2 separate regions of the Homo sapiens genome follow, and region 1 is linked to region 2. The links come from fine-mapping of genetic effects on gene expression. A gene starts in region 2. The other region holds a variant in brackets. All regions are shown on one strand. Distances are from middle to middle.

What was found. PIP is the estimated chance that this variant, and not a neighbour inherited with it, causes the effect.
Region 1: its variant is the best candidate, but not a certain one, in a credible set for the expression of LSM12 in fibroblasts (GTEx, PIP 0.88).

What each region holds. Positions count from the first base shown.
Region 1 is chr17:43,987,068-43,991,288 of GRCh38, reverse strand. It overlaps a transcript of PYY not described here. Among named protein-coding and RNA genes, the nearest start is that of NAGS, 15 kb to the left of the region's middle. The variant A/G (reference allele first, on the strand shown) is at 2,111.
Region 2 is chr17:44,064,203-44,068,423 of GRCh38, reverse strand. It overlaps LSM12 (LSM12 homolog), which reads left to right and starts at 1,753. Exons shown (of 5, transcript NM_001371445.1): 1 at 1,753-1,960. The coding sequence starts at 1,837. RefSeq lists silencers at 1,671-1,790, 2,081-2,220.

The sequences.
Region 1 (4,221 bases), 77 kb after region 2:
TGGCTAATTTTTTGTATTATTAGCAGAGACAGGGTTTCACCATGTTGGCCAGGGTAGTCTCGAACTCCTGACCTCAGGTGATCTACCTGCCTCAGCCTCCCAAAGTGCTGGAATTACAGGCATGAGCCACTGTGCCTGGCCCCAGTTGAGATCTTATTGCAGGTGACATTTTGTATCCTGTCTTTCCCGCATAACATTAAATCCTAGGCCGGGCGCGGTGGCTCACGCTTGTAATCCCAGCACTTTGGGAGGCCGAGGCGGGCGGATCATGAGGTGAGGAGTTCGAGACCATGGTGAAACCCTGTCTCTACTAAAAAATACAAAAAATTAGCCGGGCGTGGTGGCGGGCGCCTGTAGTCCCAGCTACTCGGAGATACTGAGGCAGGAGAATGGCGTGAACCCGGGAGGCGAAGCTTGCAGTGAGCCGAGATCGAGTCATTGCATCCAGCCTGGGTGACAGAGCAAGACTCTGTCTCAAAAAAAAAAAAAAAAAACAACATTAAATCCTAGTTTCTCATATCATAAATTTCGTAATCATCTTTTAGGTGACTGCATAGTGTTACATTGTAGGAATGTTTCATAATTTTATATCAAATATGCTGTTATTAGAGATTTATGATGCTTCCAAGTTTTTGCTATTATAAATGAACTGTGGTGTACATTTTGTGCCTTGTATCTCCCGATTGCATGTATTAGGTTGGTGCAAAAGTAATTGCGGTTTTTGCCATTAGAAGTAATATTTCAGCAAGTGCCCAGAAGCTGAATTTCTGGGTTAGAGTGCATGAATATTTTTAATGCTCTTGAGTCTTGAGAAGTTGCTTTTCTTTCTTTCTTTTTTTTTTTTTTTTTTGAGATGGAGTCTCGCTCTGTCACCCAGGCTGGAGTGCAATGGTGCGATCTCGGCTCACTACAACCTCCACCTCCTGGCTTCAAGCAATTCTCATGCCTTAGCCTCCCGAGTAGCTGAGATTACAGGTGTGTGCCACTGTGCCTGGCTAATTTTTTGTATTTTTAGTAGAGACAGGGTTTCACCATGTTGGCCAGGCTGGTCTCGAACTCCTGACCTCAAGTGATCTGCCCGCCTCAGCCTCCCAAAGTGCTGGGATTACAGGTGTGAGCCACCTCGCCCCGTCGAGAAGCTGCTTTTCAAAGAGTTGTGCCAGTGTACACTCTCACCAGCCACGAGCCAGCCAGTGTGCCCGTTTTCCTGTATTCTTGCCATCTGTGAGCTTGATTAATTTATTTTGGAAATCTTACCAGGTAAAACATGGCATCCCATTTTGCCTTTTTTAGTTGCCAATGTTGGTATGGTTCCTTGCTAGTGGACTTGTCTGTTCATGTCCATTTACCTTTGGGGGAGCCTAATGTCTTACTTATAGATTTGTGTGTATATATATATATATATATATATATATATATATATATATATATATATATATATATATTTTTTTTTTTTTTTTTTTTTTTTTTTTTTTTTTTAAAGAGACAGCCTCTTGGTCTGTCTCCCAGGCTGGAGTGCGGTGGTGTGATCATAGCTCACTGCAGCCTCAAACTCCTGAGCTCAAAGGATCCTCTCACCTCAGCCTCCCAAAGTGCTGGGATTATAGGTGTGGAGCCACCATGCTGGCCTTGTATTAACCCTTTGTCATATTTGCCATCTGAATTTTTCTTAGTCTATTGATTCCTTCATTTAAAAAACAGTTATTGAGAAATGCAAATCAAAACTGCTTCACACACATCAGGATGGCTAACAACAAGTGTTGTGAGGATGTGGAGAAACTGGAATCCTAGTGTACTCTGGGTGGGAATGTGAAATGGTGTGGCTGCTATGGAAGCAGTATGGCAGTTCCTCCAAAAATTAAGATGGCAAATTTTATGTTATGTGTGTTTTTTGTTTGTTTGTTTGTTTGTTTTTGAGACGGAGTCTTGCTCTGTCACCCAGGCTGGAGTGCAGTGGCATGATCTCAGCTCACTGCAAGCTCTGCCTCCTGGGTTCACACCATTCTCCTGCCTCAGCCTCCCGAGTAGCTGGGACTACAGGCGCCCGCCACCACGCCCGGCTAATTTTTTGTATTTTTAGCAGAGACGGGGTTTCACCGTGTTAGCCAGG[A/G]TGGTCTTGATCTCCTGACCTCGTGATCCGCCCGCCTTGGCCTCCCGAAGTCTTGGGATTACAGGCGTGAGCCACCGCGCCCAGCCTGTTATGTGTTTTTTACAATTAAAATGCTAGGGCCGGGTGCGGTGGCTCACACTTGTAATCTCAGCACTTTGGGAGGCTGAGGCGGGCAGATCACTTGAGGTCAGGAGTTCAAGACCAGCCTGGCCAACATGGCGAAACCCTGTCTCTACTGAAAATACAAACATTAGCCGGTGTGTTGGTGCATGCCTGTAATCCCAGCTATTCCGGAGGCTGAGGTGGGAGAATCACTTGAACCCAGGAGGTGGAGGTTGCAATGAGCCGAGATTTTGCCATTGCACTCCAGCCTGGGTGACAGAGTGATACTCCGTCTCAAAAAAAAAAAGACAGAAAGAAAGAAGAAAAAGAAAAAAAAAAGCTAGAGAACCAGAAAATATCCACTAAAAAGAAAAAAAGATGTTATTGAGTTCTACTTTGTGTTAAATATCTCTGTGTGCTGGCCATGGAGATTATCAAAACAATAAAATGTCAAGGTGCCCATGGTCCATGGGGATGGAAATATACAGAAATCATCACAACATGGTTTCAACTCCGCTCTGAGAGAGGATTGAGTGCCCTGGAGTGCTCAGGGTGGCAGTCAACCCAGGGCAGGTGAAGTGGTCAGGGAAGCTTCCCCGGGGAGCTGAATTGAGGATAAATTAAAGTTAGCCTGGCAAAGCGAGGTGGTCTGATCTGTGATTTCAGTTACGCTTTTATGACATGCACACCATTTAACGCTTGTGCGGGCAAGGCTGTTGACCTTTCTTTTTGTGATTTCTTCCAGAGCTTTTACGCTCGTAAAGCTCCCTTTCCGCAAGAGGTCTGATGATTCCATTTCGTCCTGTTTTCCACAGTTCAATTTATTTTTATATTTAACTCTTTAATCTACCTGGAAATTATTTTGATGATTGGCAGTGGGATGAGACCCTGGTGGAAGGATGAAGAGGCAGAAACAGGAGGAAATGTCTTCATTCTGCTGCCCTTCCTCCTGACTTGGTGGCTCTGGGGCTCCCACGGGTCACCTTCTCCTCTCCCTGTGGTCATTTCAGTGATGGATGAGTGGGATGGCGTGTGGCTGTGGCCCTGGGTGATTGGAGGTGATGGTCCAGTAGACCATGTTGGTCTGAATTAGGAGGGATGCAGAGCAGACTGCTGTGAGGACTTCCGGCGTGGGGACTGGACAGGACAGATGGAGGCATATGTCCCACCGCTCTCTGCCCCTCCCTGCTACCGAAGCACTCGTTCTCCATCCTTGCCCCCTTCCTCCCTCCCTATTGCTAATTTTAGTTCTCTGTTCATCTGTTTGTTTTGGGCTGTGTTCCCTGCTGGACTGTAAGCTCTTAGAGGGCACATGCCATGTCTGTTTTGCTCAGAACAACAGGCACTGGCCTCCTCTCAGTGCCTGGAGCAAGGACTGGCACAGACGAGGGGCCCAGTGAATGTTGGTTGGATGAACAAAGGGAAGAAATGGCCTCTTCATGCCAGCCCCACAGGGGTGTGGCATGTGGGAAGCTGGGAAGAGTGGTCATTCTGAGCTGTCTGCTCCAAGACCTGGAGACAGATTGCTGGATGGGGGACTGAGGATTCAGAACCCCCAGTATGGGTCGACCTCTCAAGGTCTGATCTTCGAGCTGAATTCCATCAGTAGCAGGGAGGCTGAGAGGCTGGGAGTCTCCCCTGCCCAGATGCCTTTTGTAGCTGAAGTCCCAGGGTAGAGGCGATGGGCTGGGCCCAGAGGAATAGGGCTGGGGAGACAGGGCTAGAGTCCTGGAGGCAGCTGCTTCTGATGAAGCTCAGTCTCAGGGGCTCAGAAACATTCATTACAGCCAGGAGGAGAAGTAATTAAGTCAGAGAGCAGCGGCGGGGAGGGAGGGAAGCCCCATTTTCTCAGGAGTCTCCAGGTGCAATTAATAAGGGCAAGGGAGGGGAGAGCTCTGCCCAGTCTGATGATATTGGTAATAGAGACATGGTTTCAGGGCCACGGTCACCATGTCTGTGCTGACCACCAGAGGAGGGGTGGACACAGGGGCCCGAGGAATGTGTTAGCA
Region 2 (4,221 bases):
CCAACATGGTGAAACCCCATCTGTACTAAAAGTACAAAAATTAGCCGGGCATGGTGGCTCGTGCCTGTAATTCCAGCTACTCCGGAAGCTGAGGCAGGAGAATCGCTTGAACCTGGGAGGTGCGGGTTGCAGTGAGCCAAGATGGCGCCACTGCACTCCAGTCTGGGTGACAGAGCGAGGCTCTATCTCAAAAAAAAAAAAAAAAAAGTTCTCTGAAAAAGCACACTATGAAGGAGCAGAATTTTTATTCCTATTATAATGAGTGTATCAATACTTCCAACACCAGGAAGTTTATGTTTCTTGGAGGGCAAGGAAATACTTTTGAACTTTGTTCAGGTTAAGCCGCGCCAAGACTGGCCCTTTGCTTCCCTCTGGACTAGAGAAAGGTCAACCTGTTTCTTATACATGAAGCGAGGATCCAAAATTTCTATAGTGAGCGGTGGGTGGGTTAGCGACAGCCATTGGTGGTAGTAGGGCTTGAAAATGCACGCTCATAGTCCTTTGCATAAGATTAAGAAAACGACTGTTTTGTACATCAGACGGACATTCAAGGGCAGGGGCGCAAAACCCCTCCTCCAAGCCCCTTTTTGTCACTATCCGCTGCTCCTCATTCCTGCCTTTTGCCTGGCTTTCTGGGAGAGAGGGCAAAAAGGGAGAAGGGGAAGTGTCTTGACTTCTAAGAGTGATGGGTGACTAAGGGGGAACTACCATTTATTAAAGACCTAGTACATGCCATGCACTTATACCCGTTACCGCATTTAAACCTCCTAACTATGAGGTAGGTATTATTATGTAACAGAGTATAGCAGTAAATAGCACCGTCCTTGGAAATAGGCAGACTGTTTTTGCTAGTTGTGGAACCGTGGACAAGTTTAGTCTAAAACTTAGTTTATGTAAAAGGAGGACATTGATTCCTACCTCAAAGGGCTGTTAGATGCTCAAGAAGTGACAATACAAATGCCTATGAAGAAACAGGATCAGGTAATTTGCTTGCTCAAGGTCAGGTGATTTAGTAAGAGGCTGACCTCGGATTCTGGTTCCAGCTTATCTAACTCCACAGCCAATGTTCTTTCCACTATCACTCAGTAGTTATAATCATCTTTTTTTGTTTGTTTGTTTGTTTTGAGACAGAGTCTCGCTCTGTTGCCCAGGCTAGAGTGCAGTGGCACAATCTTGGCTCAGTGCAACCTCCGCCTTCCAGGTTCAAGAGATCCTCCAGCCTCAGTCCCCCTAGTAGCTGGGATTACAGGCACGCGCCACCGTACCCGGCTAATTTTTGTATTTTTAGTAGAGACGGGGTTTCACCATGTTGGCCAGGCTGGTCTCGAACCCCTGACCTCAGGTGATCCACCCGCCTCGGCCTCCCAAAGTGCTGGGATTACAGGCGTGAGCCACCGCTCCCAGCCTTATAATCATCTTGTCCAAGTATCGTTAAGTCCTCTGAGGCTCTGATTCCTCATATGCAAAATGGGGTTAACATATTTTATAAAATTCATTCATTAAACTCTTGTGTGGAAGGTGTGCATATAATGGAGACTGCAGCTCCCTCCTCTTTCCCCTTTTCATTCCACGTAGGTCATTTATCCTTAACTTCTAAAATGGACTCTACAAGCACTTAACCGAGCGGACGCAGCTATACAAATACTTTTCAGATTCCCCTTTATTTCCTCTTCTTTCCCACTCCACCTAGGATCCCGCCCCAACCAGCGCCAGGCCACGCCCCGGCGTGTGACGCAAGCACGCTCCGTGCGCGCCGTCGCGTCGCGGCGCTCACTGGGGGCCCGGCTTTCGCCCGCTGCTGCCGCCGCCGCCGCCGGCCGCGGCTGCACTCCCAAGATGGCGGCTCCTCCGGGCGAGTACTTCAGCGTTGGGAGCCAGGTGTCGTGCCGGACGTGCCAGGAGCAGCGGCTGCAGGGCGAGGTGGTAGCCTTTGACTACCAATCCAAAATGCTGGCTTTAAGTATCCTTCCCTGCGTGAAGCCCGAGTCCGGGCCGGCGTGTAGGTGCGGTGGTCGGGGGGTGGGGGACGACGGCGGCGGCTGGGGCTCTCTCCGGGCCTAGGGGCGACCGGCTACCGCGGCGCCCGGGGCGCATGCGCACGGCCCTGAGCTCCCCTCCCCCTCCCGCGGGCCCTTCGGTCAGCTTTGGGGATCCTGTCTCTCTCTCTTTGCGGGAGCTGGGGCTTTACCGAGGATCAGTGGGTGGAGGAGGGCTTGACACGGGGATGGCTTTTTGGGGGGAACGTTATGAGAGGGGACACAGTAATTAGGAGAGGGGGTGGTGGTGGGAGGGGGCTGATGGATTGGAGCCCGGATGGAAAGGAGGGGCGGGTGAAATATTATGGGGAGGGGTGTTTAGGGTAAGGAACTGCTGGTAGGGCAAAGGTATGGAATTTAGGAGGGCATGTGCACTGATGGGATTTCGTCCAAGGAAGGGCGGTGGGATGGTGACCAAATTGGTCCTTGCCTGTTTTGGGGGAGAGTAAGTTCAGGGCAGAGTTTGTATCTGAGCTAGGGATAGTGGCTTGTTTCGCTGATGCGTGTGTATGTGTGGTGGGGGGGCTGTGCTGATTTTTAGGCTTCTCGGTCATTTGGAAGTTGCTGTTTAGGGGATGTTTGCACTGGAAACCTGTTCCAGAGAGGGCTTGCCAGGGGCTTATGTGGTTTGGGGATGTGTGAGTTACAGGTGAAAGAGTGAAGTTCTCATGCTGCCTTGATCAGTCCAGCACATGGAGTCCTTTTACGTAGTAGCAGCCTCCCTTTTGAAAGTAGCAATGTTAAACTGATTGGAAAAGGTGGCCTGCTTCTTTGGGGTGGAAGTGACTTCTGAATTACTCCAGGAAACTCAGTCTTGGAAATGAAACACTTCCTTGTTGGGATAAATGTGCCACGGCTTCCCTTTTTATGTGAGCCACAGGTGGGTTTATTGGAATTTTTTTTTGGAGGAGTAATTTTTTATGGCATCTTTTTTTTTTTTTTTTTTTTAAGATGGAGTCTCGCTCTGTCGCTAGGATGGAGTGCGGTGGCGCAATCTCGGCTCACTGCAACCTCCGACTCCCTGGTTCGAGCGATTCTCCTGCCTCAGCCTCCGGAGTAGCTGGGATTACGGGCACGCGCCACCACGCCCAGCTAATTTTTGTATATGTTTTTTTTTAACAGAGATGGGGTATCACCATGTTGGCCAGGATGGTCTCGAACTTCTGACCTCGTGATCCGCTGGCTTCAGCCTCCCAAAGTGCTGGGATTACAGGCCTGAGCCACCGCCCGGCTTTTTTTTTTGTTGTGTTTTTTGAGACGGAGTTTCACTCTTATTGCCCAGGCTGGAGTGCAATGGCGTGATTTCGGCTTACTGCAACTTCCGTCTCCCGGATTCAAGCGATTCTTCTGCCTCAGCCTCCCGAGTAGCTGGGATTGCAGGCATACGCCACCGTGCCCGGCTAATTTTTTGTATTTTTAGTAGAGACGGGGTTTCACCGTGTTAGCCAAGATGGTCTCGATCTCCTGACCTCGTGATCCACCCGCCTCGGCCTCCCAGAGTGCTGGGATTACCAGCGTGAGCCACCGCGCGGCCTAAGAATAGTTGCTTTTTTAAAAAAATAAGAGGTTACACCTGGAAGAAATAAGACCTTTTACATTAGTGGTTTAGTTGGAAGGGTCTTGTAACTAGGAATTACTTTTTTTTTTTTTTTTTTGAGACGGAGTCTCGCTCTGTCACCTAGGCTGGAGTGCAGTGGCACCATCTCGGCTCACTGCAACCTCCGCCTCCCGTGTTCAAGTGATTCTCCTGCCTCAGGCTCCAGAGTAGCTGGGATTACAGGCATGTGCCACCACACCCGGCTAATTTTTTTTTTTTTGGTAGTGACGGGGTTTTGCCACTTTGGCCAGGCTGGTCTTGAACTCCTGACCTCAAGTAATCTGCCCGCCTCAGCCTCCCAAAGTGTTGAGATTACAGGCGTGAGCCATCACGTGAGCCTGGCTGAATTACTCAACTTTTACTTGACATACAGTAGGCTCTTAAATGGTTGGAGAATGAGTTTGTGAATGAATGAATGGATTAACTGGCTGGGTCACCTTGGGTGAATTTCCTTTCCAGTGTGTAGTTTTCTCCTCTGCAAAATGGGAAAGCTCACATCTGAAAGAGTAAAAAGAATACTGTGCAGACACAGAGAGTATTATACGAAGAACAGAAAGGTCTAGCTCTTTTGTCTGGCTCATAGGTTCA